2 linked regions of the Homo sapiens genome follow. The protein of the gene in region 2 interacts with the protein of the main gene of each other region in a biochemical or structural test. Each region holds a gene or a part of one and is shown on either strand. Other genes may lie near its edges. The genes, in order: CELF2 and ELAVL1.

Region 1 (7,000 bases), on a different chromosome or scaffold from region 2:
ACTGTGGGACAGGTAAGCAGCGTATTTTATTGTCCTTATTTTCTAGACGAGGAATCTTGACAAGTCAACTGAGACTTGAAGTAGGCATGGAACAGATTAGAAGGCAGGCCAGGCATTCTCATAAGACAGTGGCAAAGGACGCCTAGCCTTGAAGGATGCCCTTCCACTCTGGTGCTGGGAGAGGCCCTGAAGCCATGTCCCTAGTGGTTCCATTCTACGACATACAGGGCAAGTCGAACAATCCAAGAGGAAGTTACTTCCATGAAAAATTAAAAACCACGCATAGCCAATGGAATGAAAATGGTCTTTGTAGTAAGAAAAAGTATTTCCTCAATTCCTCCCGAAAGAAAGGTAAATTCTGTAGCAAGTACTCAACCGAGGTGAAGATAAAAAAAACGACTTGCCTCTCAGTCTCCTCTCCAACACAGGAAAGGGGCCCTTATGTAAGGGGACTCTAAGACACCAGAAGTAAAAATGCATTCCCAAGCGCTCTAGGTACCCAGAAGAGGAAGAAACACCGTCCATTTGATGCTGGCGGCAACTTTCGGACATCAGAGCGTAAAAGAAAAGGGGGAACGAGCAGACAGGAAAACATGAGCTTGTGGTGAAAAGAAAGAAGAATCCCAAATGCACGAGGAGGCAATGTAAGGATGGCTTAATATTAAGAAACTGCTTTGAGACAGAGCTGCCAGCAGCATTCAGGCTTCTCAAAGGATTCCTGTGTTATCTCTCAGTCCTGACACCAAGAAAAGATGGCTGGCTGGACAATGGGAGTCACGAGCAAAGATGTTACCAGCGTGGACTGAAGTGACTAATTGCAGTTGGAGGCCTCCTGGTGACAATTTTGAGAAGGCAAACACAGCTGCAGCATAGCCAAATATAGCTGGCCCAGACAAAGACATCCATAAAGTTAATCATTCCGAAACACGCCACCCTTATGCTCAACTCGAAAACTCAACACTCCTCCTATAATGTAGGAAGTCAAAATACAGTTCAATGCGCAGAAACAAGCAGCTGCTCCAGTGGAATTTACAAGTGATGAGCTAGGTATTTGGATACTGCTCTCCTCCCGAGGCTCCAACCCTGAGAACTAAGTCCCAGACGGCTGTGGCCCCTTCTGTTGAAACTTAGGAAGCCGCTCAGGAAAAGGATAAAACGGGCATTAAAGGAGATTTTTTAAAACATATATATAAATCAGGAAAACATAAGAAGGGCAACAAGACAACTTCAGAGAAAGCTGTACTCTGTACTGGTTATGACCACACTGAATCTAGGCCAGGGTACAGAGATTCAGGAGTGAAGAGCAAAACAACGAAGTAAATCCACATTAGTCCTCTAACAAATGCTTTCTGTCTTCACACTTTTGGGTATCATCTTTCTATTATTCCCCTAAGAGTTTTCAAGGACCAAATGATTTCAACCCTGTTTTACTTGATACCCAATGTCTTCCCCCCGAGTTCCAAAGAGAAAACACCTGGGTGTGTGTGGCGGGGGAGGCGGGTAGGTATTTAAGTTGGTTTAAACCAATTTACCCACTTCCGGGCTTGTGAATCTGCTGTAACGTTCACCTTTTTTAAGTGTTCAGTTTATATGCTGGACTCCCATTAGACAATAAAAATTTCAAGGACCCCTTTCAACAGCAACAGGTGGCAGTGGGATCATGACATGGATCATATAAAATGGAAGCAGCAGCCAAGAGGCACAAGGTAGGGGGTGTGGTCCGCGGAGGACCGTATGTGTCTGCATAACAAGAAAACATCCGTGGAGGCCCAACTGTCCAGATTTCTCTGTGAAGTCTGTTTTTCTTCCTACTCTAACTCTGAAAAGACCTCAGGAGTAGCAACATCTTAATTGCCACTGAGAAACAGAAGAAGCCCCCAGATCCAAGGACTCAGCAGTGAGGAGAAAAGAGGCCCTCAAAAGGGAAAGAGTCTGAGCTTTTCACCCAGTAACATGGCAGAACTGCCAGAGTGAGGTTGTCTTCACCCTTCATCAGAGTTAATCCAAAGTTCTGGGCAGAAGAGTTGAAATACAGTCCTGAGACTTTTTTCTAGCAGTATCACTAATTTGCAGTACATCTTTGGTCACAATGTGAAACTTTTCTGAACATAAAGTCTTTCAGTTACAATGGTAATAATCCAAAAACACAAGTATGATCACTTTTGTAACCAAAGACCATTTCGTGGTAAATATTTTAAGAAAGCGAAGACCTATGCTGTATTAGTCCATTTTCAAACTGCTATAAAGAACTGCCTGAGACTGGGTAATTTATAAAGAAGAGAGTTTTACTCAACTCACAGTTAAGCATGACTGGGGAGACCTCAGGAAACTTACAATCACGGCAGAAAGGGAAGGGGAAGCCAGGCACCTCCCTCACAAGGTGGCAAGAAGGGAAAGCGTTGAACGAAGGGGGAAGGGCCCCTTATAAAACCATCGGATCTCGTGAGAACTCGCTACCACGAGGACAGCACACGAGAAACTGTCCCTATAATTCAATTACCTCCACCTGCTCTCTCCCTTGACACGTGGGGACTATGGTGACTACAATTCAAGATGAGATCTGGGTGGGGACACAAAGCCTAACCATATGTCCAATAAGATGACTTTCCAGATATACAGTCACATACATATACACACACACACACACACACACACACACACACATATATGTATATACCCCCACACATATTTCAGGCCTACTGACCACATTCAAGTAAATGACAAAATACTTTACTCTTTTAGCCTAAAAGACCAACTGATTGTCTTTGTGTCAAATAAATGAGGGTCAACTTTCCTGCTACTAGGAGAAAGGAAGACATAATTTGGGAGAAAGGATATAAAATACCACCTTAAAATTTAATGAGTTTTACTCAAGCTGTGAACTTTCTTTAGAAAAAGCATAAAATCAAGACTTTCAGCATAAAAGCACAGAATTTTAGACTTAGTATGTAAATCAAAGTACTTGGGAGTACACTGTTATGGTACCAGAAACAATTTAAGCTGTCCAAAAGCTATGTCAAGATGTGAAATAAATCAGCTGACCTTAATTTCATTGTCCCTGAGTAGTGAGTCACCACCTTCATCTGTGAAAGTAGGAAATCTTCAGTCCTATTGGAGCTTGTAAATGTCAGACAAATCAGCTGTGGCACTGGGGAGACTGGATTTCCATGGTTATGACAGAGAGCACTGCATACAGTCTCACTGAGGAGACAAACTTCCGGGACTTCTTCATTATTATTATTATTATTACTATTATTATTCTTAGAAGAAGAAGACGGAGTCTTGCTCTGTCGCCCAGGCTGGAGTGTAATGCTGCCATCTCAGCTCACTGCAACCTCCACCTCCCAGGTTCAGGCGATCCTCCCCCCTCAGCCTCCCAAGTAAGTGGGACTAGAGGCATGCGAAACCACGGCGAACTAATTTTTGTATTTTTAGTAGACACAGGGTTTTGCCATGTTGGCCAGGCTGGTCTCCAACTCCTGAAGGTGATTCGCCTGCCTCGGCCTCCCAAAGTGCTGGGATTACAGGCGTGAGCAACCGTACCCGACTGACTTCTTTAATTACTGAGATTTAAAATCAAAATATTGTATCTAACTCCTACCTTTAAAGCACTAGAGGAATCCTGGCAAACTGGTCAACTACCTAGGTGACTCCTGGGCTGCTGATCTGGAGGACGCACAGATTGTTTAAATGAAGATCTCTTCAGAATAGATTTCTTCATTTAAAACCCAACCTTAAGTAAAAGGCCACATAACCTGATAGAAAAACACAGACTAATAAAGCCGACCTGATAGTTTAAATACAGCCTAAACTTAATTTACATAAATCTTTAGGAGGAAAAAAAATGGGTCTAATAATTTGCTGGTTATGTTGGCTCTGAGGCATTCACTCAAATGGAGTAAATAAAATTTAACCAAAACCTGAATTTGTACTCATACGTCATTTTGAAAACCACAGGACTACACACTTATTAGCATTACATTTTAAATTATCAGCTGATTTTAAAACATCACTTTTAGTATCTAAACAGAACATACAATCTGCAGTTCATAAAAGAGACTGTTCATAAAACTCCAGGTTGGCACGGCCAATGCGTAAATCTCAAATACGCTCACAAGGCATTTCAGCCACATAACTGGAATTGTATTTCTATAAAAACAGTTGGAGTAATCACTTTCTGTCATGATTTAGAACAAATGGGGAGAGTGAAGCTGTTCAAAATCTCCCTCAATGTCTTCCCCTTTCTTTTAAAAGTCCTTTAGGAGGAGTCTAAAGCTCTCACTAAATGAAAAATACATTCCCAGGAGGAGGAGATGGTTTCCATCCCTTCACATCTGGATTCAGAGCATGAGGATATTGGATGGAACAATTACACGGTGATGATACTAAAGGGGAATAATTATTTTACAATTACCTGAAAGCATCACATTTGCTGCTCTAATTAGTTTTTGTTTCCCACATAGGTTTTTCCCAGGAATGTGCAGCTCCATTTCTCTTAAGTTTAGCAAGAGCTGTTTCTTAAGGAAAAATAAAAATACATTTTCTGCACTGCTACACAAGTAGCACACCACTGATACTGGCTTCATTATATTACTCGGCACCTCCTTGGTGGAGGAAACAAACAGGATGCATGAGAACTTGTAGGTGCTAATGAACTGGAAATCATTAGTAGTTTCCAAACCCTCCCTTCTGTGGTTCTGTAAAACAAACATTACACTGACAAACATCTAACTCTTTGTGATGGCCTAATCCGAAAACAAAAAGCGAAAATGTGACCCTCCCGTGAAGAAACAAAATCTCCCAAACGGTAATACTCTAAAGTGGAAATAATGACCTATTAAGTTTGGGTAAAGTGCAGCATTGAACATAAGCAACATTGATGACTTATTAATTTTGCTCCTTGACTCATGTTGAAAATATAACATTTTCCATTTAAATGCAAATTAGATACGGAATGCTTATAGTACTGCTTAACATTTATGAGAGTTTGTTTTCATTTTTGTCGGTTTTTACAAAAAATTCAACAATGACATCATATTCCCATTATAATCTACATATAAGTCTCAACAATGATCGCTACCCTGATTTTTTGCCCAAGAGCTGGGTCATATTGGGCGCTGGCTGTATTACACTCAGCTGTATCAGATCATTTTGCATGCCAAACGTAACCTGTCTTTTTATGCTAAGTAAACGAGTGTTTAACCTTTAATAAAAGTAAGGAAGGGGTAAAGAGAAATGAAGTTTGGGGATTTATGTAAAAAAGCTAAGGATATTGCAGTCTTTTACCAGAGGCCAAATACAGTGTTATTGTAGCTGTCAGGGGAGAAAAAAAAAACAACCAAACACTGAGAAGTGGAAAACACTCCAAATGATCCCATGAAATCTTAATTACTAGGTTCATATCCAAAAATCCCATCACCTTTTTATCTTGTCTTTCAAGGGTCTTGTTTCCCCAGCTCACTGCATCTCATCAACAGATGCCAAAGTTATCTCAACCCAGCAAATTGCAATTAAACAGCAAGATTAAACAATTAAAATAATACCTCTGCCCAGATCAAAGATAACATCAGTGTTCTAAAAAGCCAATGTGGGATGAATTCTTCCTCTCGGAAAGCAGCTGATAACATGTGCTGTTAACGGAGCAATCTCAACTGAAAAAAACACTTCAAAAATTTTCCTTAAAGAACCATACGCAAAGTCTTTTCTTTAGACTTTTCTCATTTTAATTTCCTTTCATGACCATCAGAGTATCAGGTGATAAATGCCAGTTATCTCCGTATTATTTATAACTGCATTTTCTAAATAGACTTTAAATGCCCATGGAGGAGAAAAACAGAACCCCACTGCTTTTGATCTTTATCTTGCTGGAACCTTGTAAACCAAAAAGATTTTTAATTAAAACGTATTCTGCTTAGTTAATAAATATATGGAATAACCGAATTGGAATCAAATTAGAAAGTATAAAATGATGTTTCACATACATCAATCCTGATCAGGTGACATACTTATTTCTTATGCTCATTCTCACATGGCACAGTTTTGATTTTGATAAAAGGGTATGTCATATCCTTTAATTCAGTGTTCTTCTCTGCATCAACCCATGAACATTACATGCCACCCCACATGTGTTCACTTACTTGAAAACCACAGTTTTGCCATTTACTGCCTATGTGGCAGGGGCAAGCAGGTCACCTCTTTAAGCATCATCTGTAAAATGTGGGCAATATCCACCCTGCAGATTAGAGACGGTGTGAATAAACTATCCTGGCGCATGGCAGGCACTCAACTAACAACTCACGTTTCCTTATTTTGGGGGGAGGCAGTAATTACTTCTTGGACTCGTCACACTGCCCCTCTAACAGTTTCTTAATCTATAAAATGAGGTCTGATGAGATGGTCTCTAAAGCCCTTTTCAGCTTTAACAATGATGTCCTTAGAACCACCCTTCAGTTTAATTATACACTGATAGATATTTTGCCAGTTATCCTAACTTGAAAGGACTTAACAAAAAGCTAGTTCATTAAGCTGATGAATTTACAGTCAACATAACTTTTCTCATTTTCAATAAGGTTACCTACCAAATGTAAAAAAAATTTATTTTTAATTTATTGGTAGACTCTTCTCAGTGTCTTATTCTAACACCTAATGCTTTTTAAGCTGTGTTTATCAGTCTAACTGTAATTTCTCATTTCTGAGACTTTATTTATTAGCTTTGTTTAAAAATCCAAAACCATTTACAAACCCTAAATGCATGTATATGGTCATTAAAAAGGTGAATCAAAGGAGGAAACACTCTCCACCATCTTAATTGAAAATCAACTGTCAGTTTAAAATCAAATTTAAAAAAAAATCAGTGCCTGTTTTCATTATGCTGTGTGGCTAATATTGTAGATGATATTGTATAGTAACACAAAGACAATGAAACTTTAATAGCCAAGATTATTTAAAATGTCCATTTCCATTTATAGTTTTGATACCGAATGTTTAAAACCCCAAAACT
Region 2 (11,008 bases):
GTATCAACTCACAGTTCTGGAGGCTGGAAGCCCGAGACCAAGGTGTCAGCAGGGTTGGTTTCTCTTGAAGGCACTGGGAAGGGATCTGTCACAGGCCTCTCTCACAGCTTCTGGTGGAGGCTGGTGGTCTCTGGCACTGCTTGCTTTAGAGAAGCATCACCCCAGTGTCTGCCTCCATCTTCACACAGACTTCTCCCTGTGAGAGTGCCTGTATCCACATTTCCCGCCTTTCTAAATTGAATTTATGTTTTCAAAAAAAATACTTTTTTTTTTTTTGAGATGGAGTCTTGCTCTGTCACTCAGGCTGGAGTGCAGTGGCGCGATCTCGGCTCACTGCAAGCTCCGCCTCCTGGGTTCACGCCATTCTCCTGCCTCAGCCTCCCGAGTAGCTGGGACTACAGGCGCCTGCCACCATGCCTGGCTAATTTTTTGTATTTTTAGTAGAGATGGGGTTTCACCATGTTAGCCAGGATGGTCTCGATCTCCTGACCTCGTGATCCACCCGCCTCGGCCTCCCAAAGTGCTGGGATTATAGGCATGAGCCACTGCGCCCAGCCAAAAAAAAATACTTTTTTTTTTTTTTTAAAGACAGGACCTCACTCAGTCACCCAGGCTGGACTGCAGTGATGTGATCACGGCTCACTGCAGCCTCAAACTCCTGAGCTCAGGTGATCCTCCTACCTCAGCCTCCCGAGTAGCTGGGAATAGAGGTATGCCCCACCACGACCAGCTAATTTTTTTTGTAGAGATGGGGTCTTGCCATGTTGCCCAGGCTGAACTCTTGGGTTCAAGCGATCCTCCCACTCAGCCTCCAAAACAGTGGGATTACTGGCCTGCGCCACCACACCTGGCCTAAATTTCCCTCTTTTATAAGGACATCAGTCACATTTGATTAGAGATCACCCTATACCAGTGTGACCTCGTCTTAACTGATTACATCCGCAATGACTGTATCCAAATCAGGTCACGTTTTGAGGTCCCAAGGGGTTAGGACTTCGGCATATGAATTTGGATTGTGGGGTGGGGGGAACACGATTGAACCCCTCACTGGATGAATTCTTGAGAATGGGCAGCCAGAAAAAGACCTGATTGAGGCCAAAGAGCAAGCGATGTTGGGAGCTTAGGAAAGAGGGTTCTGGCCGAGGGGCCGGGGAGCCCCAGGTCAGTGCACGCCTGCTGTGCGCCAGCTGTTCTGATTCTAGCCTGACTGAACATGACAGTGTCCAGAGAGAAGAGGAAAGCAGAGTTCCCATGGTCCTTGGAGACACCTGTCCTTGGGAGGCATCAGAGCTTTCCCCAGCATTTGGCTCTAGGGCACTTCTCCTCTGGGGCTTCATCCAGGGACGGCAGTAGGTCCAGTCAGTGCCAGCCTCAGCTCCGCTCCACTGGCGCCAGGGTCATGGTTTGGCAGGCCCCCAAATACTGCCCCAGTCCAGACAGGTCTGCAGGGAGCCAGGGCAAGCCCGGACACTAGGGGAGGCTGGGGGCCAAGGCAGCCTCTTTTTCTCTGGGGACAGCACTGGCAGCCCCTGACCCACATCATGGGGTGAGCAAGTGTCCCCAGAGCTCCTGTCCACAGGCTGATGGAGGTGCCCCGGGCCTGGGAGCAGCACGGCTTCCCCAGAGACCTCATGGGCTCCGTAGTGACATGCTCCCTCGATTCCCACCGCTACCAGGCAGAGCTGGCCTCCAGCCCCACACTCCTCTCCTCGTGGGGCTGTCCTGTTCCCCTGCTGGGCCGCCCACTGCCCTATGAGCAGGGGCAATGTCTGTTGTTCCTTCTCTGGAACATGATAGGAGCTTCTCAGAGGATGCTGTGTGTGTGTTCTCAGCACGCAGATTCTGCCCAGTGACTCCTGAGTGGCGGCTTCTCCCTGCGTTCTGGTCTCAGTTACCTTGGCTCATCAGTTCTGTGCCCCTCACTCAAAGGGAATGAACTTCCTTTCGCACAGGTTCAAGTCCCCACCCTTCTCGGGAACACATCTCCTGCTCCCTCCTCCATATCCCAGCCTCCTGACGAGGCTGTGAGTCCTGCCAGGCTGCCCCTTCACAGGCAGAGGGGTTCCACTGTGGTCCTTTTCTTCCTTCTGGGCCCATGGGGTCTGCACGGCCGTCAGCGCCAACCTGAGAAAGCACCGAAGACCTTGTCTTGCATTGGCCTCCGGGCTCCCCTCACCACCCTCTCCACACGAATGATGAATGTACCATTTTGTCAAAGCACCCAGAAGGTTCTCTTCAGTTTTCTTTGATTTTGCAAAATATAAATCCAAAAGGCATTGAGTCGTTTAATATTGAACACTTGAGTGGATTTGAGTACAAACTCGGGGTCCTCCCAGAACTCACAGCCCCTGTCAGGGCTTCTGTGGCGAGCTTGCTCTTTGGCAGGGGAGTCTCCTGTGTTCCCAGTAGCTCCCAGCTTGCTTGCCCGCTGCAGCACGGGCTGCTTTCAGGCACCAGGACCTCTCTGGCACCGGCTCACTGTCCAGCACATCAGAGAGGTAGCCACACACAAGCTGCGGGCCCTCAGTTGCTGGGCTTTGTGACATAGGAGTCACGCCTGCCTCCTTGAGGATGGTGAGCACCCAGTGAGGAAGCACTGCCAGGCATCCTGGCTCACGGCCCATCCCTCAGTGAGCTTGCCACCATGCGGCTGCAGGCGGTGAGCGTCAGTGATGATAATCGTTCCCTGCATGATTTCTAACACACAGTGTTGGCTTTTCCTAACCCAGCATTCAACACCCTCCTCAATGCTTTGGCCACGTGCCTGTACTAATCTCGGAAAGTGGTTGTGTTCCCAAGGTGTCGTATGCTCGCCCGAGCTCAGAGGTGATCAAAGACGCCAACTTGTACATCAGCGGGCTCCCGCGGACCATGACCCAGAAGGACGTAGAAGACATGTTCTCTCGGTTTGGGCGGATCATCAACTCGCGGGTCCTCGTGGATCAGACTACAGGTACCAGAGGGGCCCCAGACGCGTGGGGAGGGTGTTCTCTAGGTGGGGGCTGGGTTTTCTAGGGAAGGCAGATCACCGTTTGATTTTAAATGTCATTAGTTATTCCGCAAACGAGGACAGCACCAAAATGAGAAGACGTTGGCTTTGGTTTGAGGAGGCTGAGGAGGTAAGATGGCATTAAAAGAAGCTGGGGATATCTGGGCGTGGTGGCTCACGCCTGTAATCCCAGCACTTTGGGAGGCCAAGGTGGGTGGATCACGAGGTCAGGAGATGGAGACCAGCCTGACCAACATGGTGAAACCCTGTCTCTACTAAAAATACAAAAAATTAGCTGGGCATGGTGGCGGGCGCCTGTAGTCCCAGCTACTCGGGAGGCTGAGACAGGAGAATGGCATGAACCCGGGAAGCGGAGGTTGCAGTGAGCCGAGGTCTTGCCACTGCACTCCAGCGTGGGTGACAGAGCGAGACTCCGTCTTAAAAAAAAAAAAAAAAAAAGCTGGGGATTAGGCCAGCATTTCATGTACAGTGAAAACGCCAAGAGATTCTAGCACCTTCCCTCAGGCACCCAAATGTGCTGGCCTTGCCCATGAATGGGGTGAAAAGGACACTGCAGGCCGGGTGTGGTGGCTCACGCCTGTAATCCCAGCACTTTGGGAGGCCGAGGTGGACGGATCACCTGAGGTCAGGAGTTTGAGACCAGCCTGGCCAACATGGTGAAGCCCCATCTCTACTAAAAATACAAAAATTAGCCAGGTGTGGTGGCAGGCGCCTGTAATCCCAGCTACTCGGGAGGCTGAGGCAGGAGAATCGCCTGGACCCCAGGAGGCGGAGATTGCAGCAAGCCGAGATTGCGCCACTGAACTCCAGCCTGGGCAGCAGAGCGGGATTTCATCTCAAAAAAAAAAAAAAAAAAAAAAAAAAAAAGGATACTGCAGCCAGGTGCGGTGGCGCGGGCATGTCATCACAGCTGCTCAGGAGACTGAGGTGGGAGGATTGCTTGAGCCCAGGAGTTCACAGCTGTGGTGAGCCGTGATCGCGCCACTACACTTCAGCCTGGGCAACAGAGCAAGACCCTGTTTCTTAAAAAAAAAGAAAAAGAAAAAAAAAGGCTGCTGCACATTTGTCCACTGTGGCTTTCGTTGCAGGCATTTGGGGTGCAGTAGTCTGATGGCCCAAATCCCCAGAATTCGGATGCCCCTCTCTGGGGAGCACATCTAAAGTGCACAGAGCACATGGCAGCGAATTCCTCTAATGGGCAGGCAATCCTGGCCACTTTGCTGGCCCTCCCAGTCCGTCTTGGCACTGGATGTGGGCTCTGGGCTTTGTGTGATGCCGTCAGGCAGAGATGAGCAGGGGACATGTGCACGCCCACGGCTGTGCTCCGGCCCTACTGCCTGGCCCGCCTGCCGCACTAGGCTAGGAACTAGTGCCCCACCACATCCTTTGCCAAGCCCTGCACGTGGCCCCGCCTGGGGGACAGGGAGCTCGGGCCACCCTGAGGGGATTTAGGATCGCTCAGCTCTGTTTGGGGCAGGAGCAGGAGTCTGCTAACTAACCAGCAGGGAAGAATCCACTCCCTGAGCCTAGTGAGGCCCATGCGTTGTATGGGTGGTTTTCATATTCTTCCCACACAGACTGTGTGTGCCGCACCTTGGCTGTGATGTTGAAATAACACCGAGTAGTTGGGCCACAGAAAGTCATGCTCTGAGGTGACCTCTTTTTGAGAGAACAGCAGCACTCCCCCAGCAGCCCAGAGCCTCGCCTTTCATGTGCACACAGGTGGGGCCTTCCTGGCCTGCAGGCTAGAGGGGCATGCACATTGTCCTGCGTCCCCTGAGCTGCGTGCTTTGGGGTGGGCGGCCTTATCAGTCTCTCTTCCTCCTCCTTTCCGGCTGTAGGAACCCCACCTGGCATGCACTGGCCCTGCCGCTGCCGGCCTTCGTTCCCGCTGGGGCCCGAGGAGGGGAAGGGCCCCTTTGCACTTCATGGGGGCCCTGGGAGCTTCCTGTAGCCTAGCACAGACTCGCGCCCTGGCACCGGGCAGTGCCGAAGGACAGGGCTCACTCGCACGGCCGCCGCCATTCTGCCTTTGCTCTGGGGAGAGGGTCGGGGGATGCCAGTTACTCGGTGTAAACTCCCCTGGTCTGCACCAGAAGAGTCTCCTGTGGTCCCTGAAGTCCTCTCACTTAAGTGCCAGCTGAGCGAATGATCCTGTCAGTGGGCCAGTGTGTGGGTTTATTGCCCCCCATTCTGCACTGGGGCATCTGAGCTGGCTGTGCAGGGCCCAGGGCCGGGGGAACCAACCTCACTGGCCCACAGTCCACTCCCCTCCTCCTCTAGACCCCACATGCACTGCTCTGCCTCGGCCTGTCTGTGTCCAGTATGGCCCTGATGAGGGAAGCCTGTGCTCCACTTGGAGCCCCCAATGCCTGAGAACATGCCTCCAGCCACCCAACTCTCTTGGGGCCTTCCCTAGTCTCTCAGGCACACACGGGCCACAGGCAGGGGGAACTCACCTCTGCACACAGCTGCTGGGGGCATTGCTTCCTTTCCCTCTGCAAGATAGTGTCTCCCAGGGTGTTGGGGGCACCTTAGTATTGCGCCCCCAGGGTCGGCTGTGAACCTCAAGGTGGCCTAAGGAACCTTTGTCATCTTTGCAGAGCAGTGAGGGAGGCAGAGAGAAGGGAGCCAGGAGGGTCTCCCGGCTCTGCTTCCCACCCCAGGATGCAGAATTGGTGGGAAGGTGAGGCTCCCATCCCAGGGCTGTAGCTCCCTCTGCTGGAGACAGAGTGTGTGTGGCAGGCCAGCCTGTGTGGAGTTTGCCTTCCTGTGACGGGCTTTTTAGTGTTAAATAGATGAGGATGGCCGGGCGCGGTGGCTCACGCCTGTAATCCTAATACTTTGGGAGGCCAAGGTGGGAGGATTGCTTGAGCCCAGGAGTTCAGAACAGCCTGGCCAACATAGCGAGACCCCCAACTCTTTTTTTAAAAAAAGAGAAAAAAAATCCCACCCTGAGCTGACAGAGCTTAATTTTTTGTATTCCTTCGCTTCTATATCCACCTTAATTGTGAACTTTATAGTGTATTCATCTGGAGATTATGCCGTTTCTTGGACTCTGCTGTTAAATTCTAAAAAACACAAGGGGGCCGGGGGCCGTGGCTCACGCCTGTAATCCCAGCATTTTGGGAGGCCAAGGTGGGTGGATCACCTGAGGTCAGCAGTTCGAGACCTGCCTGGCCAACATGGCAAACCCCATCTGTACTAAAAATAGGCCGGGCACGGTGGCTTATGCCTGTAATCCCAGCACTTTGGGAGGCCAAGGTGGGCGGATCACGAGGTCGAGAGGTCGAGACCATCCTGGCCAACATGGTGAAACCCCGTCTCCACTAAAAATACAAAAACTTAGCCAGGCATGGTGGCAGGCACCTGTAATCCCAGCTACTGGGGAGGCTGAGGCAGGAGTATCGTTTGAACCTGGGAGGCGGAGGTTGCAGTGAGCCGAGATTGCACCATTGCACTCCAGCCTGGGCAAAAAGAGCGAAACTCCATCTCTAAATAAATAAATAAAGTAAAATAAAATAAAAATTAGCCAGGCATGGTGGCAGGCGCCTGGAGTCCCACCTACTCGGGAGGCTGAAGCAGGAGAATCACTTGAACCGGGGAGGTGGAGGTTGCAGTGAGCTGAGATCGTGCCATTGTACTCCAGCCTGGGCGACAGAGCGAGACTCCATCTTAAAAAAAAAATTAAAAATAAAAAACACTAGGGGAAGAAAAAAACAAAAAATGCAGAGCCATCTTCAGAAAGTATACATCCATTAAATAATTGAGTGAATTGATATCCCCCTCTGCTAAACAGCATCCCTCCTGCCCCCCTTACTAGAGCTTTCTTCCTTTCACTCAGGCAGTTTGCATTTGAAAGCCACTCTACAACCCCAGACGAGGAAGCCACACTTGCACACGTGCCTTCTCTCCGCTGGGCCGCAGGGTCTTTAGAAACAGAATGAAGCCATCTGCTTGGAGCCAGCTTCCCTACGAGCCGGCCAGCGTCAGCTCTCAGTCGTATTTGCCTAAAGTTCGATTTTCATTTAGGTTTCCAAGACTGACTAAGCTGTCATTCGTGTCGTGAGAGACTCAAAGAAAACAGCATCTGTCAGGGTTGTGTTTTCAGGTGTTCCTTCTGAGCAGCAGCTCAGAAATGAGCTTGAGCCCCAGAATATTCCTGGCACGTGTGCGTAGCGCTAGGTCTGACCTTACTAAAGCTGCTGTCTCTGTGCTCACGGGGGGCCTGCAGTGTCGCGATTGTGGGGGCAGCTGGCGGGACCCTCTGGGAAGTGGTGGAGTAAGGTGCCGTGTGAGGCGTGGAGACAGGACATGGGGACAGTTGGGTGCCCGCTGGACAGGTCACCCAAGGCCCCGGGCTGCCTGGCTTTGGTCGTTGTTTGTTACCATGCACCAGAGGCCTTTGCCTGGAGAAGAAACCTGACTTAAGACACCCTTTGACTGGAAGTCTTTCTTTTTCCTTAAGAGGTGAGATCTTACTGTGTTGTCCAGGCTGGTCTTGAACTCCTGGCCTCAGGCGATTCTCTTGCCTCAGCCTCTGGAGTAGTTGAGACCACAGGCATGAGCCTTGGCCTGGCTTGACTAAAAGTCTTGAGAACCAGGGTGTTTGGGTTGGGCTGTCTGTGACGGCCTCTCCCACTGGGACACACCCGTGACTCCCGCCTAGTGATGTCACTCTCAGACTGGCCTCTCAGCTGTCACCTCTCCCACCCCTGGGCCTTCCCCTGACTCCATCATGTCCTTGCCCCCAGAGAAGGAGCTAGTGCGCTGCTCAGTGTGCCCTCATCCCCATCCCCCTCATCCAGTTTCCAGCCCGCTTCCCAGGTTCCTCAAGGGACGGGCTACTCATGTTTCCCTCCCGGGCCTAGTGTATGGACAGGCAGGGGTGCAGGACAGCCATGCTCTCCTTCCACCCGCCTTGCTCAGCATCTCACACCCATGCCCAGCTGACCAATGTCCCCCATAGCAGGACGGTCCTCAGGTCTCACACTGCTCCGTCCAGGGATTGGGTTTAGCCGGGAACCCGGGACTGGCCCTTGGGTGGCTCAGTTGAGGTGGCAAGAGAAGATGCCCTCTGGGCTTGGCTGCTGGGGCCCTGGCCCTTCCCATACAGGGACCCCAGGCCTGCCTGGCGAGCCTGTGGATAGGTTCAGCTCTGCTGTATGAGCCTGGGCAGTGTTCTGGCCTCATTTGATTCTGATGGCAATTTGGGGCCCACGGGAGGGGTGTAGGACCTTAGAGTGGAGTATCCCAAGACAGGAGTGAGGTGACAGCAGCAGCATGGAGCTGGCAGGGGGTGGCCACAGGACCCTACTCCCTCCTGGCATGAAGGAGAAGGCATGCAGGCTGAGCTGGGCACCTTTGCAGCAGGCTCGGCCACGAGGCCTGCTGTCACAGCGGGCCCAGAGACAGCAGCCAGGAGAGTGGCCCCTGAGCCCAGGGAGGATCTCTCAGACGCAGTCCCCACTCCAACCCTGTTACCCACCAACCACACACCACACCCACGCACCCACTCTGTGGCGGACACCTGGCAGCTAAATAGTGACGGTGGATGTGCTGTTTCCTAATGTTGCTTTCTTCCAAATAAGAGGCCTGGGTGTCTATTGGGGATGTCTGTCACCAAAATATCTTTGGGCGCCAACACTGTGGAGTCATGGCTTCAGCCGGGAAGAAAGTCTGAAGCTTTAATCTTCTGTTAGTCATTGGTTTTCTTTACTCCATCCATTTGTTTTCACTTTTAGGTTTAATTTTTGTTTATTTCCTTAACCAGACTTCTAGCCTGGCCCACAGTAGACTGACCTGACTTTTGCTTTTCAGTTTTGAAAGTCCTAGCGTTTTTCCCCCTAACTCCGTTTTTGTTGATTTGTTGAAAAGGTTTGTCCAGAGGGGTTGCGTTTATCCGGTTTGACAAACGGTCGGAGGCAGAAGAGGCAATTACCAGTTTCAATGGTCATAAACCCCCAGGTTCCTCTGAGCCCATCACAGTGAAGTTTGCAGCCAACCCCAACCAGAACAAAAACGTGGCACTCCTCTCGCAGCTGTACCACTCGCCAGCGCGACGGTTCGGAGGCCCCGTTCACCACCAGGCGCAGAGATTCAGGTGGGTCGGGAGGGTGCGCGCTCCTGAAAGCCATACTTAGCCCCGCTGGCAGGCGACGGCACAGCCACAGAATAGAAACCACGGGGATGATAGACTGATCCCGTCAGAGAGCGCGTTTCAGAATCATTCTGCAGCTCCACACCACAACCTCCATCAGAAAGGTGTCTGTAGGAAAGCCGTTTACTTCCGATTGGGCGTTGTCTTTCATGGGAATCAAAACAGTGACTCCAGGCTGGACACAGTGACTTATCCCTGTAATCCTAGCACCTTGGGTGGCTGAGAGAGGAAGATCGATTGAGCCCAGGAGTTCAAGACCAACCTGGGCAATATTGCGAGACCCCATCTCTACAAAAAATACAAAGCTGGCCAGGCATGGCGGTGCGCTCCTGTAGTTGCAGCAACTCAGGAAGCTGAGGTGGGAGGATTGCTTGAGCCCAGGAGGTTGAGGCTGCAGTGAGTTGTGATCATACCACTGCACTCCAGCCTGGGCCACAGGGCCAGAACCTGTCTTTTTTTGTTTTTATTAAAAAAAAAAAAAAGACAGCACCAGTCCCCACCAGTTGCTGTGAGCGTGAGCACTTAGAGCTTCAGCACGCAGTTCCTAGTAACAGCAGAACGGAGCCGCGAGCTTTAAAGATGGTTTCATGCCCAGTGTGGGGGAGCACACACCTGTAATCTCAGCTCTCAGGAGGCCGAGTTAGGAGGATTACTTGAAGCCCCGAGTTTGAGCAGCCTGGGCAACAAAGTGAGACCCCTGTTCCTACAAAAAGTAATGAAAAAAACTGGGCATGGTGATGCTGGCCTTTAGTCCCAGCTACTCAGGAGGCCATGGTGGGAGGATCGCTTGAACCCAGGAGGTGGAGGCTGCAGTGAACTATGATTGCACCACTGCACTGCAGCCTGGGTGATAGAGTGAGACCCTTTCTCTAAAAAATAAATGAATAATGAACGTCTCATATCTGTGGGAGAAAAGATGCTGCCTTAGGTATACTCGGGTGAGAGTAGATCTTCCAGCATTCTTAGACATTTGATCAGCAGCCCTAAGGCAAACCTTTTTCAAACACCTGCCTCGTGGAGTCATTTGTATTGGTGAATGTTGTATGTATGCATTCTGTTTATAAGCCCTGTCCTAGAGGGGAGGAGTTTTCCCGGATTCCTTAGTCTTTCCATCCTGAAAATGGTTCTGGCTGCCAGGATGAAGTGGGATAGAGGCGATGAGAGTCAGGGCCTTGGACTCCAGGATGTGGTGTGCTGTCGCCTCAGAAACAGCAGAGGTCTCAGTGTCAGGGCTGTTTTGTTTTTGTCAAAACCTCAAGGAGTGGCATCGAGGGCTTATCTCAGGTATGACAAGGATAGATTTCCCTTTTTTTTTTAATTTTTAATGTTTTTATTTTTTGTTGAGATGGGGTCTCACTGTGTTGCCCAGGCTGGTCTTAAACTCCTAGCCTCAAGTGATCCTCCTACCTCAGCCTCCCAACGTACTGGGATTATAGGCGTGAGCCCGGCCCCATCGTTGTTTTAACAGTGAAGCTGGGTGGGCGCTGCCCAGTGCCACACATGCTGCTGTGAGAGGTGTTATTCTCATGGCTGAGTTACCCAGCATTCTCAGCCTGGCTCAAATTCCAAAGCTGGCCTGCCTTCCTTGAGGTTTCTGGCTTGAAGACAAGGCTGGGGAAGCTTCTCTGGACGGAATGGAGCTGAATTTTAAAATCCAGCTCTAGAAATCCCATCATACAGTCGGTCCTGCTCTTGATGGGGCGGGCTATATGGGCGGTGGGGTTGGGTGAACTGCTCCTTAGCCTGGAAGGAAAACAGGGAAGGTTGGAGGAGACATGGGACTCTGGTCCCAGTAATGAGGACAAGAAAAGAAAGGGGAAACCGGAGAAGTGGACATT

Evidence for each region.
Region 1: the proteins of ELAVL1 (region 2) and CELF2 form a complex in vitro, tested with the Homo sapiens proteins (one study listed by BioGRID).

What each region holds. Positions count from the first base shown.
Region 1 is NC_000010.11:11,020,872-11,027,871, reverse strand, and holds part of CELF2 (CUGBP Elav-like family member 2), read right to left. Parts: intron 1-7,000. UniProt on the Homo sapiens protein: RNA-binding protein implicated in the regulation of several post-transcriptional events. Involved in pre-mRNA alternative splicing, mRNA translation and stability.
Region 2 is NC_000019.10:7,965,670-7,976,677, reverse strand, and holds part of ELAVL1 (ELAV-like protein 1), read left to right. Parts: intron 1-2,799; coding exon 2,800-2,953; intron 2,954-8,887; coding exon 8,888-9,113; intron 9,114-11,008. UniProt on the Homo sapiens protein: RNA-binding protein that binds to the 3'-UTR region of mRNAs and increases their stability.